Linked DNA regions of Homo sapiens: regions 1 and 3 are each reported to be linked to region 2. The links are microRNA targets in miRTarBase. Many come from high-throughput screens and were not tested one by one. Region 2 holds a microRNA gene; each other region holds the end of a gene's coding sequence.

The links. Region 2 holds the annotated microRNA hsa-miR-3137 (UCUGUAGCCUGGGAGCAAUGGGGU, at 3,101-3,124, shown strand). A microRNA usually pairs through its seed, bases 2 to 8, with sites in the 3' UTR of a target mRNA and lowers its output. Matches are read on the target gene's strand: a 7mer-m8 pairs with bases 2 to 8, a 7mer-A1 pairs with bases 2 to 7 and ends in A, and an 8mer does both.
Region 1: the mRNA of PIP4K2C is a reported target of hsa-miR-3137. Seed matches in the 3' UTR shown: 7mer-A1 at 1,198-1,204.
Region 3: miRTarBase lists NBPF3 as a target of hsa-miR-3137. Seed matches in the 3' UTR shown: 7mer-A1 at 2,137-2,143.

Annotation. Positions count from the first base shown.
Region 1 is chr12:57,600,923-57,605,163 of GRCh38, forward strand. It overlaps PIP4K2C (phosphatidylinositol-5-phosphate 4-kinase type 2 gamma), which reads left to right. Exons shown (of 10, transcript NM_024779.5): 8 at 1-156; 9 at 323-426; 10 at 604-2,496. The coding sequence ends at 684. It overlaps DTX3 (deltex E3 ubiquitin ligase 3), which reads left to right and starts at 3,902. Exons shown (of 7, transcript NM_178502.4): 1 at 3,902-3,936. RefSeq lists enhancers at 3,272-3,783, 3,784-4,241.
Region 2 is chr3:195,133,434-195,137,674 of GRCh38, reverse strand. It overlaps MIR3137 (microRNA 3137), which reads left to right and starts at 3,095; the gene lies at 3,095-3,169. The region is part of intron 3 of XXYLT1 (xyloside xylosyltransferase 1); the gene reads left to right. RefSeq lists an enhancer at 4,167-4,241.
Region 3 is chr1:21,482,409-21,486,624 of GRCh38, reverse strand. It overlaps NBPF3 (NBPF member 3), which reads right to left. Exons shown (of 15, transcript NM_032264.6): 14 at 4,090-4,141; 15 at 1,725-3,482. The coding sequence ends at 3,239. Among named protein-coding and RNA genes, the nearest start is that of ALPL, 25 kb to the left of the region's middle.

The DNA of each region.
Region 1 (4,241 bases), not on the chromosome of region 2:
TGGATGGGGACTGCAGCCTGACTGGACCTCCTGCTCTGGTGGGCTCCTATGGCACCTCCCCAGAGGGTATCGGAGGCTACATCCATTCCCATCGGCCCCTGGGCCCAGGAGAGTTTGAGTCCTTCATTGATGTCTATGCCATCCGGAGTGCTGAAGGTGAGAGAACCGGGACAATTTAAGGGTGGAGAGGGGATTTTTCCTGGAGGACAGAGACCAGAGTGCTGGGGGAGAGCCTGATTAGCTTTTCAGAACAAAACTGACTGCTTCCTGGAGAAAGGGAATTGGAACTAAACCTACTCTGAATTGTTGGTCTCTCTCCCAGGAGCCCCCCAGAAGGAGGTCTACTTCATGGGCCTCATTGATATCCTTACACAGTATGATGCTAAGAAGAAAGCAGCTCATGCAGCCAAAACTGTCAAGCATGGGGTGAGAGTTCGCAAAAGCCTTTCCTTTCCTGTCTTGACTATTCTTTGGGAATAGAGTCTCTTGTGCCAGAGCAATGGGGTGGCAAAAGAATGGAGGTGGTCTGGGGTAGATTGGGTGGGGGTGATGGGGACGGGTGCTAGGGTGGCCTGACATATTGTTCCGTATCTCCTCTCACAGGCTGGGGCAGAGATCTCTACTGTCCATCCGGAGCAGTATGCTAAGCGATTCCTGGATTTTATTACCAACATCTTTGCCTAAGAGACTGCCTGGTTCTCTCTGATGTTCAAGGTGGTGGGGTTCTGAGACACTTGGGGGAATTGTGGGGATATTCTAGCCACCAGTTCTCTTCTTCCTTTGCTAAATTCAGGCTGCAGGCTCCTTCCATCCAGATAACTCCATCCTGTCGAGTAGGCTCTTTCTGACCCTCAGAAATACATTGTCCTTTTTCCTCTTTGCCCATTTTTCTTCCCTCTCTTCCTCCCCATGAGAAGTCTGCTTGTAGTATTAGAATGTTATTGTTGACTCTCTCCCAAGTGCCTTGATCTTTGTAATATCTCCTGTTGTTTCTATGATATAGGAGCTAGGGGAAGGGGGTTGTTTGCCTTCTTCAGGACCTGACTGGACAGATGGACCTGGCTCAAGCAACTACTCTGGATGCACTTTGCTGTGTGGGATGAACTAAAAGTGTCTGAATTTTGCTGATAACTTTATAAAACTCACTATGGCATGCTTCCCTCCTGGTGGGCCCTAGGATGGATGACACTCAAGATACTACAGATGTGGGTGCAGGCATGCACACACACGATGGAATATGGCCATTCCTACACAGGTGGGGTAGAGAGTGGGTCAGCAGCCTGGCACCTCACAGAGGTGGGACCTAAGAGGACTCATGATTATGCAGAGAATTGGATTGGGTCTCTGTCATAGATTGAGTAATCTCTTCCCTTACCTCAATTCCATCTCCACCCATCTCTACATCTGGGCACAGCAACCCAGAGATGGCCAAAAGCATTCAAGCCTGGGGGAAGATGTTTGACTATTGCTGCTCTTCACCAGAACCTCACACCTCTCCTGGGACTGGAACCCTTCAGTGGGTGTGTGGCCAGTTTTGGAGGCTGGAATGATGGGCCAGGGTGTAGGATTCATTCTCCATGTAAAGTTTCCTTTCATCCTGCCTAGCCATCCCCAAGGTTTATTTCCAGAAGAAAGGAATATCTCTACTTGGATCAATTCTGGTCATTTCAAGAGGATGGAGGCCTCAAGTGTGGGAACTTCCCCTACTCCCTGGATGTGTGTACCTAGCACACTTCCTTCTCCCACCCCTTTTTCCAGTTGGATTTGTTTTTCTGTTCTCTTCTGTCCTGTCTTATACTGCAACTGTGTCTCCTAGGGGACAGATGGCCTTCTTTGTCATCTTCACTCTCCACCCCCAGAGAGGAGTCAGAGCCATAACTCAATCACTCAGCCCCTCCAAAGATAGTTGATGTGTGATAATCTCATAATGTTGAGAACCCTGATGAGATACATTGTCTTCCTCTCCCTACAATGCCTCTGGGGCCAAGGCACCCATTCTTCTTGCTATCCTCCATCCCCCTTGAGGCTTCCACTTTTTTTTTTTTTAGACATAAAGCTGGGCATCAGCAACTGGCCTGTGGTGATGCAAAGCTGCTTTGCTCTGTATCTGGCTGGACTGATCTGTCTCACAAGAAGCCATGAGGCCATAGGGAGAAGCTCCCTCTCCCCTTCATCTTCTGCTCCAAAGGTGGTAGCAAGAGGAGTACCCAGTTAGGGGTTGGAGCCCCCATATAACATCTTCCTGTCAGAAGACTGATGGATCTTTTTCATTCCAACCATCTCCCTTTCCCCCGATGAATGCAATAAAACTCTGTGACACCAGCAACCATTGCTCTTTAGAAATGGGTTTTCTGATCATATGGCTGATGTGTTATGGGCAGTATGGATGTCTTCATTTGTTGCTTCTGTTTTTCATCTTTTTTGTTTTATTAATAAAAATTTATGTATTTGCTCCTGTTACTATAATAATACAGGGAATAAATTATTCAATCCAAATTTCTGTACAGAAATGCCTTTTTTTTTTTTTTTTTAAATTTCACTTCTCTCAGGGAGCCTGTGTTTAAGGGTGCAGAGACCAGCTGAAGAATTCTGGTGTTCAAGGTGTTGGGCCCCTAACTAAGGATGTGGGTTTCTAGACAGATGGCTGTGAACTTTTTTAAAAAGGCTGTGAAGGGTGTGCACGGGAATGGAAAACTTAGTCTTTAACCTTGTGGGAGGTCAGCGGTAGTGAGGGCCAGGGAAGAGTAGGGTGATGGGACCCTTCCTCTTCCCAGAGTTCTGGGCTTGCTAACACTCCATCTTTGTAAAGGTGAGTAGGCCTCTCAGCCCACCAGCTAAAAGAAAAGGAATCTAGTATTCCCCCAGGCTTCCTGGGAAAGCTGTCCTCTTCCTGGAGGGAAGGAAGAGTACAGCAGGGTCCTGGGAAAGTGAAGAAAGTGACTAGCCCTCCAGTCTAGAGGGGGGAGTGAAAAAGGGGTGGATGAATAGAGGTTGTTGCCAGTTTGGGAGATTCCTGCCTGTCTTGGCTGAGGAAGTCTTTTGGCTGGTGGAAAAACCTGGCTTGATGTGGCCCCAGGGAAGTGAGTTGGATTGGGCGGAGACTGCTTGATGTGGGAAGCAGAGCAGAGCTTTTTTTTTTTCTTCTTTGAGAGTTTTTAACTCTATTTGAACCATACACTTGACACCACCACCACCTCGAGCCACTTTTTAAAAAATGTATTCGCTTCCCATTCTGCACCAGCCTCCATATCCCTGTTTGTGGAAAGAAAAATCAGAGGCACTGACCAATGATCATCTGAGAGCAGGTTGTGGGGGTCATAGGAGGTAACAATCTAGAAAGAGGCAGGAGATGAGGGAGGGGATTGAAATAGTTTAGTACCCGGATTTGTTTATTTTTTAGAGCCAATGCTTTTCTTTTTACTATGACTCTTCCCATCCCACATTGTTCCTCAAAGGCCCTTCTACCATAAGGATTCAAAAAATTGCCGCCCTCCCCCCGAATCCCCATATACCCACCAACACTTCACCCACCCATCCACCACCAGCTCCTGGGAGCTGCTACGCAGCTGGCTGGGAAAGAAAAGGGAGAGTGCTCCGCCGGGAGCGGGGAGCGAGTAGGGTGGCGTCTCCAGGGATTTAACCTCCTACCCTCAGTTCCATGACGCCACCCCCTCCCTCCAAAGACTGGGACAGCGCCTCCATTTTTGTTTTGGGGAGGAAGGGCAGGGGCTTGCGGATAGAAGGGGGTCAAAGGAACGGTGATTATCACCTGTGAGGGGAAAGGGGGTGCTGTCCTCCCTCCTTCCCTTTTCCTCAGCCTGCACCCCCTGCAATCCCCCACCTTTCGGGGTCTCCCCCTCCTTGTTGCTAAGGCCCGGACCGTCATCCCAGCAACAGCCTCAGTCATGTGACCGGCAATGGCGGCGCTGACGAGAGGTAGGTGAGCCCGGCGCCCCCCACACCCACCGCGCGCCCCCCGGGCCCCGCTCGCACCCCTCACGCGCCCCCCGCTCCCCCGGCGCCCCCTCCTCCACCTCCCCTCCCCGCGCGCGGCTCCGGGCTCCCCGCTCCGTGCCCGGCCGATCATCTTTCTAGCACCCTCCAGCCTTGGCCTCCATTCGGGGGTTCTGAGGGCTGCGATCGGGCCGACATGCACCCCCACCCGGCGGTGGGGATCCGGGGGCTTTGGCTACTGAGGGATGTGGGGAGTTGGTTCCGGGTCGGGTCTTGGAGGAGGCCGT
Region 2 (4,241 bases):
AAGCCAAAGCAGGCAGTATTTACAGAGCACGGAGAGGTTAAATGTAGAGTGCGCAGCAGCACCACCTCTGAAGCCAGAAGGAATTTGTCCTGGCCTAGAAAGGGAGTGTGCTGTGCAGGAAGGAATCACCTTCTGCCTTGGATGAAGCTGCCACTAGCCCCTTTCTCTTCACGGTCTTTGAGGTTACAGGCAGGTGCACACCCTTACCCCACCCTTTACCCATGTGGGAAAACATGGCTTTGTGCTCTTATCCATGGTGCAGAAGACCAGTGCCGAAAGCCCAATGGCAAAGGTGCAGAAACTGTGGCCAGATTGGAGCTGACCATGTGTGGTTTTGTAAATTGCCAGCTGAAAATAGCTTCCAACAATATGGGGTCAAGGATTTTTGAAGCACCATTATTAAAGCATCTCAAACTTCAGTTTGTAATGCCCCTGTCCCTACATGTCACCCCTTCCCCTGCCCCAGAAGAAAAGTGTCACACCCCACTTTGTTTCTCCCTCCACTTTTTTCTTCCCTTCAGTGCCCCTTCTCTGTCCTGGCCCCCACAGCAAGCTGATGAGGCACCTGGGCACTGTGGCAGGCTGTACCTGTATGATTGAAGGATCCCATTGGCTGCCTGCAGCTAAGCCTAAGCTTGTGGACAGCCTCCTAGGACTCGAACGAGTTGCAGTGTAATCATCTCCTTTTAGACACTCAATCCTGTGCTCATTTCTCAGTTTGAGAACCTGTTTTCTGGGTCCAGGCCTTTCTGATGAAGGTTTTTACCCTTCGACGCCACTTCTAAAAATGGTCTAAAACAAAGAATAAGTTATTTATCTCCTTGGACCTCTGCTTGTTTTTATTTATTTATTTATTTTTCTTGTCCAGGCTGAAGTCTCCATGCCCTTTGACAGACATGCAGTGGCCTTCCTGGCAGCTCCCTGCGTCCTGTGAGCTGCCCACTTCACCTTGTGTGCTTCTGGCCAGGGCTTATAGCAGTGCTGTCGTCCTGTGTGCTTGAACGGTGCTCAACTGTGTGCAAATTGGTTTTACATTCATATTTTAAATTTGCTCCTCATACTAATTCAGTGACATAAGAACGCAGGTGGTTTTATCCTTGTTTTGTAGAAGACACTAAGTTTTCGGTAAGTTGCGTTCACCCGGGGCCGCTTGGTCAGGACTAGAACCCAGGTTCCTGGGCTCAGTCCCCTGCCTGTCCCCTCTGCCCCTGAGGTCCTGGAGTGATGGTTCTTAGACCACATCCTCTATTTCCTGAATTAGGAAATAGCAGCTCTTGAGATGTTTTGCAGTCTCCTACCCAGCCACCTTATAGCCTGGGTCACTGAGTCCCATTTATTTTTTTGGGCCGGGGTGGGTTGCAGTATACAGGTGTATGTTAAAGATAGTCTTTTCATTCAAACCTATAGGAGCACTGAGGGTCCTACGTTGGCGTTTGAGCGCTGTCCGAGTGGATCTCTCATCTCTGTCCACAGTCACATTTGGCAAAGGCTGCATTTCTGCTCTGACGTGTGGGGCTCTCTCCAGCAAAATGATGTTATCGCTTTTCCTCCCAGCATGGTGACGGCCCTGGTGATGCTGTGATCAGTGTGTAATTAAAGGCAGCCGTGCATGGCTGCTCTCAGACTGTTGCTGAGGGCTTCTGATCATTGGGAAATCTCAGTGGTGTAGGTTTTAGTGGAAACTGTATCCAGCCAGGCCATTCATAGCTTCTACACCATAGAGGGAATGTTGGTCATTATCAGAGGGCATGGGTTTCACTTTTTTATGTCTGCAGCCTGAGTCGGGTGAACCTTTCTCTTACCCTAGGGAAGCACTAGAATAATGCCTGCCTGCCTACCTGACTGCCGTCCTGCCATCCCCGTCTGTCCATCCGTCCATCCATTTATCCATCTAAGGTGACAGCAAAGATTTACTGTAGAAAATCTCTTTCCCACAGTAAAAACCTCTTTTCTACAGTAGAAAGCTCTTCCAGTCTGAGTTTCCGTGTCTGCCCCTTCAGTCACAGGAACCCCATCCTGCTATGTACTGCAAAAGCAGCTGACTTCTGCCACAGTGTCATTCCCGTGGGTCTCAGCCTCCTGGTGCTGAGGCCTAGGGACTGTGTTCCGAGCCAGCCTGGGTTCTCCAGGGAAGTGTGGAGGTGCCCAGTGTGTCATCTGCCCTGGAAAATGGAAGCCACTTGTACTTCACTGTCCTCCCTCCCATCTCCCAACACCCCTTTCTCTTCACTGAAATGCTGAACAAACCTCCCTGCCCCTGCTGACTGACTCTTTTTTGATAAGGGGATGGAAAGATAGACTCAGGTGCCTCGGGTCCAGTCCCTTCCTATCCACCTTGGTTTCCTCCTGTGTAAAATGAGAAAGGTGAATTGAACTATCTTTCCTAACTCTAGCAGACCATTATAGATTCTGTTGATATCGTCGCAGAATTCTGGGAATGGGAGGGACACCGAGGGTATCTCGCCTCATGTTGGATTCCGCCTGCAGCATCCCAGATCTGTCAGTCTCAAGCGGATCACCTCCCACAGTGGGGACGTGGCCACTTTCAGAGCAGCCCATTATTTGATGATTGGATGAGTTTGTTAGAATGTCTTTCTGTCTATTAAACCTAAAACAATCTACGCCCCTGTGGTTTCTACCCATTGCCCCTGCCAAACATACTCTGATGCCAAACGAAAACATGTCCTCACACCTTTCCCCACAAAAGTCCTTCAGATACTCAGATTTACAGAAAAGCTCTTATTTACTGAGTCGTCTTTGGAAATAGCTGATAGCTCTTTGCACGTGCGCGCACGCGCGCACACGCACACACACACACACACACACACACACACACACACACACACACCCCTCTTCACGCCATGATGCCAGCCAGTGGGAAATACGGATGGAAAGCGTTTCCTCTCTGCCAGGCTTCCAGAGGCAGGGAGCAGGCCTGTCTGGAGGAACTCTATGCAGACATACATTTCTTACCGGGGAAGCCAGGGCCCCAGCTTGTAGCTTTCTCCGAGTCCCTTCCTGGCATCCTGAAGATTAATCTTGTCAGCTGCTGGGAACACAAATGTGTGTGCTGATTCATTACAGTAGCATGGTATACAGGTCTGTAGCCTGGGAGCAATGGGGTGTATGGTATAGGGGTAGCCTCGTGCTCCTGGGCTACAAACCTGTACAACATGTTTCTGTACTGAACACTGTAGGCAGCTATAACACAGGGGTAAATATTTGTATATCTAAAAATACTTAAATATAGAAAAAGTACAGTACATAGAAAGAGTAAAACATGAAAAATGGTGCCTCTGTATAGGGCATCTACCATCAGTGGAGCTTGTAGGACTGGAAGTTGCTCCGGGTGCGTCAGTGGGTGAGTGTGAAGGCCTGGGACGTTACTTTGCACTGCTGTAAGCTTTTTCTATTCAGGCACCTGTAGGCTATGCTAAATTTATAGAAATAAATGTTCTTTCTTCAAAAATAAATTAACCTGAGCTTACTGCAGCTCTTTTCCTTAGAAACTTTTAAATTTTAAAAACCTTTTTGACTCTTGTAATAACACTCAGCTTAAAACACAAATATATTGTACAGCTGTACAAAAATTTCTTTCTTTCTTTCTGTCTGTCTGTCTGTCTTTTACTTGGCAGGGGTCTCACTATATTGCCGAGGTTGGTCTCAAACTCCTGGGCTCAGGCGACCCTCCTGCCTCAGCCTCCCAAAGTGCCAGGATTACAGGCATGAGCCTCCACACCCAGCCAAAAGTAAATACTTTTTCTTTTTATCCTTATTCTGTAAGCTTTTTTCCATTTTGTAAGTTTTTAATTTTTTAAAACTTTTTTGTTAAAAACAAGCCAAACACATACATCAGCCTAGGCCTGCACAGGGTCAGGATCCCCAAGACGTCACTAGGCAATGGGGATTTTTCAGCTCCATCATGATCTTCTGGCACCATCCTCTGTTCGTGTGTTCTGTCGTTGACTGCAACGTCGTCACGTGGTGCGTGACTGTATACAATGCTGCATGGCAACAAGTTGCCGAGAGTGTGCATCTGGGAGCGTTTGGCACAGCAGCTCGTCCGCCTCTGCTTGTTAGGCGTAGCAGAGGTGACTCAAATATGAAATGTTTATCATGCTGGAAGCTGAACATCTAGTTTTCTTGGTGCAGACACATTCATTTTTAGAGTTCAATAGATGCTGTCACTTATGGGACACATTTCTCCTGAAGGTCTTTGATCACATTTGCCTGTAGAACTT
Region 3 (4,216 bases), not on the chromosome of region 2:
TTATTGTATTAGTGCTAAATTCTTGGATGTCAAATTCTTGGATGTTCCAGAGAGTGTTTCGCATGTGATTAAGATCGGGATGGGCAGACTAAGTGAAGCAGATTGCCCCCTTAACGGGGGTGGGACTCATACAATCAATCAAAGGCCAGGAGAGAATTAAGAGGCCTAATAGGAAACAAATGCTTTCCTGGGTATCCATCCAGCTTTCCTTCCATCTTGGGAATTTCAGCCTCCATAATCTCAGAAGCAAATTCACATATGTATACACACACATATACATTTCATAGGTATGTGGCTAAGAGTGTATTTTTAAAAGTTCAGCCATGAGATGATTGGTGAAGCCAGCCAATGAATAAGGGTGTGTTCTGTTATATGACTCGGTCTTCTTTTGTACACGATTGAAGTTCTGCATTTGAAGTAGGAGGACAGGAGAGAGCAAGACCACCTAGGATGATAACAGCTGAATTTCTCAACAGACACTTCAAAGCCCTAGGGGTTAACTTAGAGAGTCAAAAATCCCACCCATAACCCTGTCCCTAAACGCCAGGGCTAGGGAACACTGTGGCCCTCAGGTGATTTTCTTTCACTTGGTCTGGGAGCCACACAAGGGCAGAGGGAGCAGGAAACACTAAGCAAATCGAGGCCAGGACAGCAGGGAGGGCCTGTTCATGACAGAACACAGGTAAAACTATCCTCAGAAAGAGCATGTGGAGAAACACAGATCATGCCTGAGACCTGGTGGATTAGAGCACTGGCTACTGGGGAATTGAAAGGAAGGGGCTTCACCATGCAGAGGACCAGAGGTGCCAGTCCTGGAAACGCAGAATTGCTGGGAGATGGGGAGGCATGGACAAAGGAAGCATCCGCTGGAGACTCATGGTGAAGAGAACAAATGAAGTAACTGGCAGAAATTATAGGTCCTGGTAGAACAAAATAGAATCCCACAACGAGAACATACACCATGTATGTCCCGCAAGGAAGACAATAGCTCCTAAAAACACAAGAAAAATCATTTTGGGCAAACACCTTATATCCAGTAATGCGATCCATGTATCAAGACCGTGAGGAAGATTATTAAACATGCTAAACTCAGCGAGACCTGATTCCCTCATGAGGACTCTGTTAGGATGAGTACCACTCAGCAAGTGATGACTGTGACATTCACTTTTGAACAGCTCATGAGCATTAATATATTTAATTGTGGATCTAAACCAAAAACCAAGGTGTGGGCAAGATGACAACCACAGAATGTCACTGGTGTATGTTTAGGTTCAAATACGATTATGAGAAGTGGCAGGTAAAGGAGGTAGGAAAAAGAAAACACATCATGTAATTGACTGTCATATGGAAATATGTGATGTTGAAAGTCATAATTTAAAACGTATAAACCAAATATTAGAAGTGTGTCTAGTTCAAAGGGGGGAAAACTATGAAACATTTTTAGTCAATATCAAACATGAGCTACACAACCCTTCCTAAATGCCAGAGGCACACGCAGACACACACACACACACTCTCACAAAGAATATAAATATCTAGAACCAAGAAATGGAGTACATGCATTCTGCTACATATGGTAAACATAGCCTACAAGGTGGAAGAGATTAGAAAATAAACAGGGAAATGAAAATGTTTTTATTAATTCGCATCAGTACCCACCAAAACCAATCAGCATAACAAAAGATTATAACGCTGAATGTAAAAAACAATCCAACAGTCCAGAGTGATAGGCAAAAGTTTTTAATTGTATAGATTAAAATAACTTTGGACAAAAATTAAAACTCAGGCAGAGAATGTTTTTTTTTCAACAACACACACTAGCAAAAACAAAGGCACAGTAAACATTGAGGCAGCAAATTTCCAGCGTAGAGATATGAATATAATAATAGACACAGGCAGGGATGATTAATAAATGATAAAACGTTTAGAGGATGATCACTGGAATACAGGACATTTCTACTTTGAAAAACCACTCTCCCAAATACTTCATCATAAGTAAGGTGTCTCTAAAAGGGACAGATCTCCTAGACCCCTCCTTAACCAAGTAACCAGTCCTGATATCATGATAATGCTGATGGACAAACTAGACCTTCTCTGCCCACAGATGGGCTGAGGTTGGAAACTCACAGTATCGACTCTGTAGTGTTCTTGATGAAACGTTTAGGCTGAATTTAATCATGAAGACATTTTCAGACAACTTCAGAATGTAGACCATTGAGCCAGACAGCTGACCTGTCCTCTACAAACAAGTCCATGTCACCAAAATCAATGACAACAACAAAAAGATGAGGAAATATTTGGGGTTCAAAATAACTAAAGAAATGTAGCTACATTATCATTTACTTCTTCTGAACCCAAAATATCTCTCCTCCTTTTTGTTGTGTGATTCGTGGTGACGTGGACTGTGTGAAGGAGACAGGTCAGTTGTCCTGCTCAGTGTTCTACATTCTGCAGTTGTCTGGTGATTACCTCCTATGAAACTCAGGCTAAGCATTTTCTGCAAGAACATGGCATTGTTCATATTCTGCACTGGCAGAGTCCCAGGTGACATGCTGTCTCTTGCCAGCGGCTCCTGACTCCTGTTCTTTACAGGATGGAATTGAAAGGAGCAGGACTAAGGCCTCCCAATGCTGTTTGTCCGTCTAGCTGTGGTCTTCCTAAGTATTGATATCAATTGGAGGCTGAAGGACTATGGCTTCTCTACTCAAAGGAGCCTAGTGGGTTAACAACTGTCAAGAGCAGTCAGTGGTTCTGAAATACAATCCTCAGCCAAGGATCCCTCCTGTGTTACAGATGGATCAGCTAAAACAAACCAACACTGAAGATACAAAGAATGGGGTTAGGTTCAATGAAACCAGGGTAACACCTTTGGATGAGCTAAACACAAAGATGACACTGACCTTGAGCAGGTATAGAAGCTCAGAGACATGCCTGCAAAATGAAACCCCTGAGGAACTTTGTAGCTACCCAGAGATATCTGGTTCAAATTAGAATGTCTGGCAGATCACTCCCGGCATGTGCTACATAGTCGTGTGAACGTGTCACACCTAACTTGGGTCCAACGTCTTCAGACTGAGCACAGGTGGCCACTGGCATGGTCTGAGAATAGGAATAGAGCCATGCCCACTTTCCCATCCTATGACTGGGCTTCCAAAGGGAACTACAGTTTCATTCAAACCTACATGTGCCTATACGTCCTGCCTGCAGCAATGACATCTCTCAGCTTAGTAAGGGCTGCTTAGTGTGGGAATATGACTCCCATCTGGAAGGCCAGGTGGTGCCTTATCACTGTCAAAGTAAAAAACCTATTGTCCACGTCAAGGGCCAAGCTGACGTCCTGTTCCTCAAATGAGTAAAAGGCACTTCTATACTGCTGGAATGAGGCATGTAGTTGAAAGTAAGTTGAAGTAGTCGAATAACATCTATCCAGTGAGTCCTGCAAGACTTCAGGCTCTTCTGCTTCCATCAGCACCTCGTTGAGCCTGGAAAAGGAGACAAAACTAAAGAAGCAGCCAGGGAAAATCAGACACCACAGAGCCCCAACTAGATTTCAGGGGTAACATAAGGAAGTGGTCAAAAAAGGAAAAGGATAGTTCCATTAATGAGGTAAAAAAATTATTGCCTTTATGTTGGGATAGAACAGGGCCAAGTAGAAAACAATGAAAGAGAAAGACAGAGAGTGAGAGAGAGAGACAGAGAGAGAGAGAAAGTGAGCTCAGTGAATTGGCCAGGTGACACATTGATGAGGGAGTAAAAGGACACTGTGAGTTAGTGCCCTCAGGACACACAGCAAACAGTGATCATGAGAAGAGTGAGCTCAATAGTTTTCCATCAAGTGTGCTTAAAATTCCATGCAGTCGCCATAAGGGTACAACTTCTGAGGTATGGTCAACCTATGGTACATTAGTAAATGATAAGGGGAGGAAGAAATGAAAACCTAAACGTCTACTGCAATGAAAACCAATAGCAATGTCAGCAGGAGTAATTCAGCCTTCATTGAAAACATGAAATCAAACACACTGTTTTCCCTGGATCTGTTGTCTCCAGGTGTTAACACAGAATTAAGCGACCACAATTGCTGAAAGTTACCTGGGGCATGGTGGCTTTTGATCTTCTTCCCCTTCTTGGTACTTTTCAATTTCTGCAATAAATTCAGACATGGACAGACACATTAAGCTGATTCCCCTACACACATAACATTCCACTGTCTAATCCT